Regions from separate parts of the Homo sapiens genome. Here regions 1 and 2 are each linked to region 3. Evidence: fine-mapped expression QTL. A gene starts in region 3. Each other region holds a variant in brackets. All regions are shown on one strand. Distances are between the middles of the regions. Region 1 overlaps TNFSF4 (TNF superfamily member 4). Region 2 has its middle 31 kb from the start of TNFSF4. Region 3 holds the start of TNFSF4 (TNF superfamily member 4).

What was found. PIP is the estimated chance that this variant, and not a neighbour inherited with it, causes the effect. A credible set is the group of variants that fine-mapping cannot tell apart.
Region 1: its variant is the best candidate, but not a certain one, in a credible set for the expression of TNFSF4 in whole blood (INTERVAL, PIP 0.75).
Region 2: its variant is the best candidate, but not a certain one, in a credible set for the expression of TNFSF4 in whole blood (TOPMed, PIP 0.63).

The regions. Positions count from the first base shown.
Region 1 is chr1:173,180,434-173,184,433 of GRCh38, forward strand. TNFSF4 (TNF superfamily member 4) reads right to left here. Exons shown (of 3, transcript NM_003326.5): 3 at 3,298-4,000. Among named protein-coding and RNA genes, the nearest start is that of TNFSF4, 25 kb to the right of the region's middle. The variant G/T (reference allele first, on the strand shown) is at 1,584.
Region 2 is chr1:173,174,006-173,178,005 of GRCh38, forward strand. It overlaps a transcript of TNFSF4 not described here. Among named protein-coding and RNA genes, the nearest start is that of TNFSF4, 31 kb to the right of the region's middle. The variant C/T (reference allele first, on the strand shown) is at 2,285.
Region 3 is chr1:173,205,064-173,209,063 of GRCh38, forward strand. TNFSF4 (TNF superfamily member 4) reads right to left here and starts at 2,268. Exons shown (of 3, transcript NM_003326.5): 1 at 1,961-2,268. The coding sequence starts at 2,113. RefSeq lists an enhancer at 2,200-2,259.

The sequences.
Region 1 (4,000 bases), 25 kb before region 3:
GGATAAAGTATCATTAATTATATAAGTAATGTATTATAAAATCTACTGCTCTGTCTCAGGTCTCCTTATGTTACAAATTGACACCCTAGAAATGAAAATTCATAGATAAAATTATTTTAGACTTTCAAATGTCTGCCTTTTCAAAAACTACTATTTATTTGACCACTAATAAAATGAGATTTAACCATGCATGCAATGAGAATTGTTTATTACTTACCTAGAAGAAGTGTGTTTGCGTCAGTGTTCAAGAGTTTAAAATAGTATGAACATGATTAAAGGGATAGAAATAGTATTAATTTAAATAATTAAAATAATTTGGTATATTTTATCAATGCTACTTACTGATGCAACAGTATTTTGAAGTGCATCTAGGTAATGCATGTGTGTTAGGGATACGATGAACAATAGACATGATAGCAACAAGTATTTGGGAGAGCAAAAGAGATCAAGCTCAGCTAATTTTTACTTCTCTCAAGGAAACAGATGATTACTAAGTACCTAGCACAATGCCTGGCATAGCATATAGTAGAAGCAGAAAAAATTTATTTCAAACTGGCTGAGTGTTGATGGTTTTATAATAGTAAGTGAGATTTTCATAAATTTAAAAGGCCATGTTGCCTTAAGGAATGATCATAGGATTATAGAATGTTATACCTTGAAACTGATTATAAGGGGAGAATACAGATTGTCATATCCTAAAAATTACTTAAAGGGTGTATGTCCTTGTTAATAAATAGTTCATCCTAAATGACAATAGAGCACTGGACTGAAATGACCTTTAGAGATTACCTTCTGCTAATATTTCTACAACTTTGGGTCTTCCTGTTAATTACTTTTGTATTTTGTTGTTATTGTTCTTTGTTTTTAACCTCAAGCCTCAAATACCAAAGAAGGCCAAGATCGTATAAATCAGGAGAAAAATCAGGTCTTATGTCCACAGCAATAAAGAGCTGTATTTTCTCAGCATTGGCAGGACTCCAGGGAAATCCAAATGCTAAAAGTCTGTGTTTCCGCTCCTAACATCCCTCTGTTCCCTCAGTAGATAAGCCACAAGGATATGATCAAAGTCAATCAGTTCCATTGACCAAAATTTGATCAAAGCCCATTTTAAAATCATGCCCCATGAGACCATGGCACCAGATTTCTCAAGGGCTCTGGCATAATGGTAGGATACTCTGAGCGCTCAATCTCCTCTTCCTAAGGCAGTTCCCTCCCTGAATGCTACTCCAGTTGTTCCCCAGGCCCTTAGTCGGAACTAGAGGGCCTTACATTCCATGACTCAGGGCCATCTGACCAGCTTTAGGGGATGGAGGGAAGGTAAGGCATTAAAAGTGTTCATGTGCCAATTCTGCTAGGTAATATTGACATTTACATTTTAACAACATCTTTCCGTGCTTTGATCCCGTGGAGTGAATGAGTGGCTACAACAGCTACAATGGCTAGTTACAAGGTATGCTGCTAAGGAAGGCTCCAAACCATCCACATACTCCGTAAGGAAGGCTGCTGCAGGAATAAAATTCCAAAGGGCTGCCAAAAAATATATTTAAGTAATAAAAAATACATGTATAGAGTGGTTGAAATCC[G/T]CAGGGACTACTTCTTGGTGCTCCTAACATTCCATTTGATATTTTAAAATGCTACTGAAAACCACCCCAGTATGGTCTTTATTAAACATTCACTTCTGAACTTAATAAGCTCTGTGCATACCTTTTGCAAAAAGTATTATAAACTTGGTTCTTATGTTCTTACAACATTTCTTTTTCTTATTCTCTTCTAGTAAAAGTAATTCAAAGCTTTTGTTCAACTGATAGAAAAAATAAGGTATTTTTATGAATTGGGCCAAAAGGGAAAACGGAAAAATGTTTATGCATTTACCCAACATCATGAACCAGGAGGAGGGACTTGCCAAAGAGGATAGAATGTTCTATTTTGAGCATACTAAGTAGAAGAGCCCATTACATCCATACAGAGCTGCCCAGAAGCAGAGTAGCAGTGGTTGAAAGTGTGGTCTTGGGTGTTAACTACCCTTGATCTTGAATCTAAGCCCCACCACTTAGTAGCTGCATGCGTTTAGACAAGTTCACCTCTCAGAGTCTCAAGTTTTCAGACGTAAAATAGGAATTATACCACTTACCTCAAAGAATTGTTGAGACAATGGAAATAACAATTTATATAAATGGCTAATACGATGCCTGGCACAGGGAAAGAACTCACTAAATGGTATTTTATTACTAATAACACAAGTGATTACAACAAATGAGGCACTGGAGTAGAAGACATCTGGGCTGAAAAACGGTCTTAGGTATTGCTGATGTGGGAGCATTGATTGAAGGCACAAGAATCAATGAGATTGGCAAGGGTATAGAGCAGAGACCACAACTCAAATGCCTGAGGGACTTCAGCAGTGAGTTTGTGTAAGTGCATTTGCACATTGTGTGGGTGAGGAGAACTCTTGGGAAATGGAGTTCATGGAGTCTCCTTAAAGAGGGAAGCTGCCACTCTGTTTGGGAAGGTTGCTGCCATGCCAAAATTGGGCCCAGCATCACCAGATCTCCTGTTTCTGTTTTTGGTTTTGTTTTCAAAAAAGATCAGAAATTTCCCGATATTTAAATATCAGCTACTAAATTCAACTTAATAAACAGATGAAACACAGACATAGGCTAGACTGCGGCTCATTGGCTGCCAGATTGCAGTTTCTGCTGTAGAGAAAGAATAGGGCTGAGAGTAGAGTCCTGAAGTACACCAGCATTAAAGGGGTGGCAGAGAAAGAGGAGGGGTGATGAAGACTAAGAAAGGCAGAGAACAGAAAGAGAAGTCCAGAAAAGGGTGAGGTCAAAAAAGCTGGGGAACAGAAGTGTTTTAAGGAGGACAACGTCATCAGCACCATCAAAAGTAGCACAGGGATCACTGTGGCCAGACTATGCTACACAAACCCATTAATAGTTGTGACCTTTTATTGAGACAGCAGATGTAATTACCACTTAGGAGAGGGGACATAAGAAATCATCCAGGGTTAGAAATAAGGTTCTGAGGAAAGGAAAAACAGTACATGGTAGAACTCTATTTAAATCAGTCTCTCTTGAACCATGAAGAGGGACTCTAAGGACCTCCAGTGAGCATCTTTTCAAAAGCAAAGATGGGCTTTGCCACCTCAACCATCCCTCAGATGTGTCTTTGATGGCTAAAACTGGAGGCAAGTAGGAAACTGGAAAGCTTGCCCCGTCCTCCCCTCTTCAGAGGATGAGCTACTCAGAACATGGAGAAGACAAGGATAAATGAACACTCCAACACTCTCACCAGTAGTGAATTCTGAGATCTTTTATTTGTTTCCATGTAAATAGCAATATTACTATTAACTATATTATTAATATCAATATTAATACTCTCTGAGAGCCAGGAAAGCACTAAATACAAAATTATGACTTAAAATAGGGGACCTGCCCAGTATACTTAAGAACAAATTATGATTTGGATCGGGATTGGAATCCCTTAAGCATTCTCTAAATAGAAAATATCTAACTAACAATTGATAACTGCTCTTGAAGGACTCACAAAGATGGCTGAGGAAGATGTAAGCTTGTCCAGAAAAAAATACATTCAACATAGTAAAGGAGAAGGTTACACTCCTTGACTCATAGCAACAAGAACATAGACATTTAATATGTGCATTCACAGATAACACTGTAAGCATAAGATTCTAAACTGTTAGATATTTAACATTCCTCTCATTTAACAGAAAGAAAAGCAAGACCCAGAAATGGGAAATGACTTTCCCAAGGTTACATGGCTAGTTAGTGGCTAAGTCAAATTTAAAATTCTGATCTCCTGACTTTTCATTCAATTCTTTTCCCACAAAACTCTGCCATGTATATCGAAGGGTTAATTCTCCCTGTGAAGGACATGACTTACAGGGACTGAGACACACACACATATTTTTGATGGAAGGAAGGTGGAGTGAGGCTGGTGCATAGCAGAAATATCCCTGTGTGGTTGCAGAGGCCAA
Region 2 (4,000 bases), 31 kb before region 3:
CTGCAAATTTTTCAAACTTTTATGCTCTGCTTCCTCTTGAATGCTTTGCAGCTTAGAAATTTCCTCTGCCAGATACTCTAAATCACCTCTCTCAAGTTCAAAGTTCCACAGATCTCTAGAGCAAGGCCAAAATGCTGCCAGTCTCTTTGCATAGCAAGAGTGACCTTTACTCCAGGTCCCAATGAGTTCCTCATCTCCATCTGAGACCACCTCAGTCGGGACTTTATTTTCCATATCACTATCCGCATTTTGATCAAAGCCATTCAACAAGTCTCTAGGAAATTCCAAACTTTTCCACATTTTCCTGTCTTCTGAGCCCTCCAAACTGTTCCAACCTCTACCTGTTACCCAGTTCCAAAGTAACTTCCACATTTTCATGTATCTTTACAGTAGCACCCCACTCTCTGTGGTACCAGTTTACTGTATTAGTCCATTCTCATGCTGCTATAAAGAACTGCCCGAGACTAGGTAATTTATAGAGGAAAGAGGTTTAACTGGCTCACAGTTCTGCAGGGCTGGGGAGGCATTGGGAAACTTACAATGGTGGCAGGGGAAGCAAACGTGTCCTTCTTCACATGGCAGCAGCAAGAAGTGCAGAATGAAGGGGGAAAAGTTCTTTATGAAACCTCAGATCTCATGAGAACTCACTCAGTATCAGAACAGCATGGGAGAACCACCCCCATGATCTAATCACTTCCCACGAGATCCCACCCCAGACTACAAGATGAGATTTGGGTGGGGACACAGAGCCAAACCATATCAATTGCTGTCTCATTGTTTTCTGTGGGGGAATGAAAGCTGGTATCTCATACACTGCCATATGGCCAATGTCACTTCTATAGAATTTTCAATAATGAAACAAAAAGCTACAGGGCTAGCACCTCATACAGATTATACAGTCTGTCCCACTTGGTAATAATGTAAAAAATACCACTTATCTTAATCATCTATCTTGTAAACCTACAGACTTTCATCTTTCTTTACTCCTTTTAGAGTCTCTTACGTCTTTGTTTTCTGTGAAGTAAGATCCTATCGGGCAGGGACTGTGGTTTCTACAAGTGGTAATTAAAAATTATTAAATACCTTGAAAATGTCATAATCTGTGACCCGTGGTTGGTGTTTTGTTTAATCCTCAAAACAATCCTATGAGATAATTTGTATGATGGCAGAGCAGGGAAGGCAGTGATCAGTAGACCTACAATTAAGTAAAACCAGAGGATACAGCTGATAAGTGGTGGTAAAATCTCAACTTGAACACAAGCCTCCATTGATTCTAAATCTTGAGTGCTTTAGACCAACCATATTATTCTAGTGTCTTTCTATTTCTCTCAGATTCCCCAGAACACCTAACACAGTGGCAGGTACTTTATAAAAGAATTTTTAACAAATATTTGTTTAAATAAATTAATTTTGTTATAGGCCCTCAAATTTAATAAATCTCTAGTGTAAATCTACATTCTTGAAAGGCTCTTATATTATCCATTCCTTGATTTTTTTCTCTATGCCTACTTTATTTTTGCTTTCTCCTCACTTGTACTCCCTCATTCCTTCCCTGATGCTATCAGGCCCCCTGAAAAGGAAGCTTTTGTTTAGAAAGTTATAGCACAACTTGTGCTGCCACTTAGCCACTTGAGAATTTCTGGCAGAAGTCTTATGAAGAGCATGACTTACTGTAATTTGAGAGGCTCTTGTTTTATTTAACATTATGGGAAAAACAATCATCAGGTCAGACCAGCACTTCTTATGTAATGGGGATTTAGGCTCAACTGTCTACATGTCTAGACTAAGCTTGGGACCCTATTTTTCCCCAGGCTCCTTAGCTAGGTTTATTCCTCTTCCAGAAAGACTTTTGTTGGCGCATACATGAGTTCCATTTTCAATTGACACTAAACTAACAGAGCAGTCTACCAAGACAGGAGGAAGTCATGGTTTTTTGTTTTTTTGTGTTTTTTTTCCTAATCTAAGACCAGCTGGCTGATGCTTCCTCTCACAAATGTCTTGTGTTTGTAAGTACATGGCTGGGGCGTAGACTCAAAATGAATGCTACAGCTTCCTTATATCCTATACAAAGTATCTTGTTCTGTGTATCAAAAAGTTGTGGACAGGTAATTAGTAGTGGTGTAATTGCTTTTTTTGTGGGTACATAATTATAATTTATGAAGCTTGCCTAACAAATCATATCCGTAAAAACTAACTACCTTCAGAAAACAGTAAAAATATGGGCCCTTCGATAATTATTTCCATGCTACCAGTATGGACAAAAAAAAATTAACCAAGGGAAGAA[C/T]CTGAACTTACAGAAGGAATATTTCACTATTTAATGAGGAGATATTATTAATGAGGATACTCTATCCCTCAGATGTTGTGTCACTTTGGGAAAGAAAAAATATGGACTCTGAAATCAAAACCGCAGTGAGAGATCATCTCACACGAGTCAGAATGGCTAGTATTAAAAAGTAAAATAATAACAGATGTTGGCAAGGTTGTGGAGAAAAGAGAATGCTTATACGCTGCTGGAGGGAATGTAAATTAGTTCAGTCACTATGGAAATCATAAGTTTGGTGAGTTCTCAAAGTTCTGAAAACAGAACTATCATTCAACCCAGCAAAACTATTATTGGGTATATACACAAAGAAATATAAATCATTGTACCATAAAGACACATAGATACATATGTTCATCACAGCACTATTCACAATAGCAAAGACATGGAATCAACCTAAATGCCCATCAACAGTAAACTGGATTAAAAAATGTGATTCATATATACCATGGACTACTACACAGCCATAAAAAGAACTAGATAATGTCCTTTGCAGCAACACGGATGGAACTGGAGATCATTATCCTAAGCAAACTAATCCAGGAAAAGAAAGCCAAATACCACATGTTATCACTTATAAGTGGGAGCTAAACAACAAAAACATGTGGACACAGAGAGGGGAACAATAGACACTGGGGCCTACTTGAGGGTGGAGGATGGGGGTTAGGAGAGGATAAAAAACTACCTATCGAGTACTGTGCTTATTACTTGGGTGATGAAATAACTTGTGCACCAAACACCCATGACACACAGATTACCTATGTAACAAACCCACACATGTAGCCCTGAACCTAAAATAAAAGTTTTAAAAATGGTTGAAAAGGTAAATTTTATGCTTGCATATTTTACCACTGAATTTTTAGACTAGAAAATATTATAATTTTACCTTAAAGAAAGAAAATGTGGTATATATACACAATGGAATACTATTTGGCTGTAAAAAAGAACAAGATCATGTCCTCTGCAGCAACATGGATGGAGCTGGAAGCCATTATACTAAGCAAACTAATGCAGGAACAGAAAGCAAAATGCCTCATGTTCTTACTCATAAGTGGGACCTAAACATTGAGTACAAATGGACACAAAGAAGGAAACAACAGACACCGGGGCCTACTTGAGGGTAGAGTGTGCGAGGAGGCTGAGGATGGAAAAGCTACCTATCGGGTTCTTACATGGGTGACGAAAAAATCTGTATACCAAACTTCCATGACACACAATTTACCTATATAACAAACCTGTGTGTGTACCCCTGAACCTAAAATAAATTTTTTTTAAAATAAAAAATGCAGATTCTATATGGGAATTTTGTTAGCAATTGCAGTTTTCAGTCTCTGTCCCTGCTAAGTTTCTTCAAGGTAAATCATTTAGTCATTCACAAACAAATATTTACTGGCCAACTTTATGGGCATAGCACTTTGTTAAGTAGAGAAACTTGTTATTATGGAACTTAAAAAAACAACTTGCATCAAATCACTATAATGCAAAATAGAAAGTAATAAGTGCCATTAAAGAATTATATGTTACAGGAATTCAAAAAAAGTAAAAGATATATTCTTCCTAGTGACATTAAAGAAGTTCTCATGGAGGAGCATGTTTGAGCTGAGCCTTGAATGATGGTTACACATCTACTTTTCATATTATAAATAACACAGTTTCAGAATAGAAAAACTAGCCACCATT
Region 3 (4,000 bases):
TAAGGACCCATTGTGCTGTCCCAGATCCTATAACAATATAAGAAATTACATTAGCTAATTAGAAATAAAAAAATTATAATTAACATCAAGTGAAGAACTTCAAATATCCTGAGCAAAAAAAAGAAATCTATTTTCAGAGTAGACAGGGCATGTTTCTTAAGCAAACAACTCAAATATACCACCTATGTCTTGCTTCCATCTCTGTGCCAGGACTATAGAAGCTAATTCTCCCCTAGAGATCACTCACCATGAGGTTTAGTGTCCTAGAAACCAGCACCCTGCTTTTCTTCCCACAGCTTTCCTTCTGTCCCAGAGTTGCTGGATGACTTGTTGGAAAGGATCCCCTCTTTTTCTCAACATCTCCTGGATATTGATAGTCCAATGTGACCCCAACCACCAGCAAGCTGTACAACTGTGGTTCACCTTTTGCTCTCTCCTGCTCAGAGCCGTTGTGCAATCAGTTAGCCTTGAATGGAGCCATGTGTCCTGTGTTTTATCATCCCATGGTGTAAGGAAATATGTAACACTGTGGTTGTTAGAAAAAGCACTCTCAGGGCTCCCAGACTGGTGAATGCACTCAGCTGTTCTATATTTGGTTACTCTCTTTGTTTTCTTCTCAAAAGAGCCTAATTCCGGTTGATGTCTTGGGCATCCGGTCGATGTCTTGGGCATCCTGCCATGGACACCTTACTCTTCCCCCACACCCTCTCCCCGAGTCGCCTACTTTAATTTCACCCAAAGAGTTCTGCGAGAAGACATAAGAGTGTGGTGTGATGAGGAGAGGATCAATGTGTTGTTGTGCTCACTGTTCTGCAGACCTGAGCATGACACTAGCTACACTTCTGGAATTTGGAGACACAAGCACTGTCTGTGGTACAGTGATCATAACCACACACACTCTTACCAGCCTCCATGCACTGAAAACCCTATTTCCTGTAGGCAGAAACAAGCCCAGGCATTTGCCAAGACTGCTCATCTCATTCTGGTTTCATTGGAGGTGCTTAATCTCAGACAAGACCATCAGAAATCAGTTTGTATTACCTGAACTTTATCAGGGAGAAACATTTCTAACCCAAAGCAACCACCTAGAAAACAAGATTATCAGACTAGCTCAACAAAGGAACACGAAGAGAGTATAGATTTATTTTTCTCCAGTGGCATCTTCTGCAGTGAAGAACATCCTTAAATACCTAATAATGTTTGTATATCTGAACTACTGAATAAGAAAAAATAATGCAAAAGAGAGAAGTGTGGAACAAGAATAAAGTGAAAGAAAAATGGAAATATTTTAACTATATGGGGAAAATACTAGAAGGATAATCTCCTACTACATGATGTATTTAATAAGGTAGGGAAAAGGTGAAATGATGTCTTTAAATTATGACTGGAAGAGATAGATTGTGAGAAACAATATCTGATTAAATCATTGGGGTGAATGAGTGAGCACATAGGCACACACACATGCACGCACACATTGCTCCGCTATTAATATTGATACCTTCAGCATTCTTTACAAAGAAAATCACCTTGCAGGTCTATAGGGTATATGAATATTATGGGAAAGTGGAACTGGTCTCTTTCCTATTTCCTTTTAATATTAATTGCCTGATCAAACACATTACTATCACAATGGGTAGACCAGGTATATCAGTGACTCAAAGCTTCAAAGTGACAGCTTATAAAGGGATACAAGGAATCTTGCATTGCAAAGAAAAAGAAAAAGATCTAGAAGCTGTGCCTCTGCCCTACCTCCACTCTGCCCTACCACTGCCACTGCTGAAAAGAAGGAAGGAAAGGAGAGACAGAAGGGCGTTTAACCACACTTTACGATTGCTGTGGGGAGAGGGAAAAAAAACTCAACACTTTTGGCATAAGATTATTTCCAAGCGACTGTTTGCAGCTGTTGCAGCTGCCATCAGCATGAGCTGGTGGGAAAACAGCGCCCAGTGGTGCATCTTACCTGAAGAGCAGAGAAGTGCAGGCAGATGTAGGTGAAGCACAGGAGCAGCCCCAGTCCCTGAATTACAGAGGCCACCAGCAATAGCTTGTTCCTCTCGAATCTTGGCCTGGCTGCATTTCCCACATTCTCTTCCAGGGGTTGGACCCTTTCCATCTTCACAATCTGGGTAGAGGGAAGATGAAGATATGGAAAAGGGGAACGTGCGATAAAACTGAAGTTTTCCCCAGAAAGAAGGAGGTAAAGACAAAACAAAGCCTATCAATCAGAAAATAGGCAAAGGTCCCAGGGCCAGAGATAAAAGGCGATTGAAAGAGCAAAGCGGACTCTCTCAGTTTTAACGCTGCAACTTTTGCAGGCAGGCGGGGGAACTTCTTTGTGACTAATCTGAATTTCCCCTTTACTTTCTTTCTTTTTTTTTTTCCTCTGGGCTAACAGGGAGTTGTTTTTGTGACATTCCAGTTCTGATTTGAGTGACTGTGAAATGACAGTCATAAAAGTATGCTATTTTCTTAACTTATTGCACCAGTAACAAATTGTGGGTCACTTGGTAAAGATAAAAATCATCATCCGTTAATGTAGCAGCTCATATATCCCTTCCCCAAGGTGTCTTAAATCATAGAAAAGATTTAGGGGAAATGCTGGCCCAAGGTTCTTATCTGCACTTTACTATGTAACTAAACATTGAACCCCTCTCACAGATTCAGAAAGAAAGCACACACAGATCATTCTTGAATGAAAAAGACAAAACAAGAAAATAGGACACTGGGTCATGCAGAAGTAAAGGAGAGATCCTTGGTTGTAGTCTATTGCATAAAAATAAACTACCTTTTGGAAGCATTTACTATGTGTCAGACACTGTGTTAGATGGACTTGCAATCTTTCTCTCATTTAACCCTTTGAGGCAAATTCAATAAACAATTATATGATTAATTTTCTGCATACCAGAAAAGAAGCAGAAGGGTATCCTTGTCTCCTTTCCTTCCACTTCACATTTTTCCCGTACATAATTTTTCCATGAATGAACAAATGAATAGATGTAAATAAGCTTTGAAGATTATTTCTTTCTTTGAGGTCGTGGCTGGCCTCAGAACTTGGAAAGTAAGAGTATTCTATCAATAGACACCAGGTACCCTTTACCACTAAAATAAACAATGAAATGAAATAAATGATAAAATTACTTATAATGTAAAGTTCAAATGGGCAAATATTTACTGAGTACATCACATGAGCCTGGCACTGTACTGGACAACATAAGGATGCTGGGGAAAAGCTGTTTAAGACGGAATTGTCTCTCTTTGTGGCCAAGTATGTCTCTCTCAGCTCCCCATGAGGCACCCAGCAGATATGTAAAGAAAGGAGGGAGAAATATTTTGGATATTGACAGTATGAGTTGTTATACCACTTCACAGAAAAAATGGAAATGAGGCATACTTAAAAGAGAAAGTTTGTGGGAAATGTAAAGTACATTTATGACTACAGTATTAATCAATTAAAATATGAATTAATACCTTCACTACAATAATTATGCCTTGCATTAGGAGAACATACTGGTGTTGAGAAATTTAAGTTTTATCTGAAAGATAAGGTAACTAAGGCACAATATCATAGACTCCAAGCCAAAACTAGAAATCAAATTGTATCCAAACATATTTGTCATAGTTATTCCCTTGAACAAAGCTTGTGTTACATACAGGGTGTGGAGAAAAAAGCTGAAGGAAAAATCAGTGTGTAAAGCCCAATTCTTGTGTAATAGTTCTTCATAAAAGAGTATTAAAATCAGTAACTATTTACTCGTCAATTTTCAAAAAATGACTAAGAGTCACAGCAAAAAAAAAAAAAGCCATAAATACTATTGGAAACTAGAAATAAGCTGAAAAAGTAGTAAAAACTATTCATGCTGAAAATCGTAGATAACATTTTTAAATTACTGTCAAAAGAATGAAAAAAATAAACATTTACCATGCACATACTTGTACCTTAAGCAGCATTTCTTCTCAGTGTTAATATCATGGCTCCGAGAAAGAAAAATCTTTGCACAGA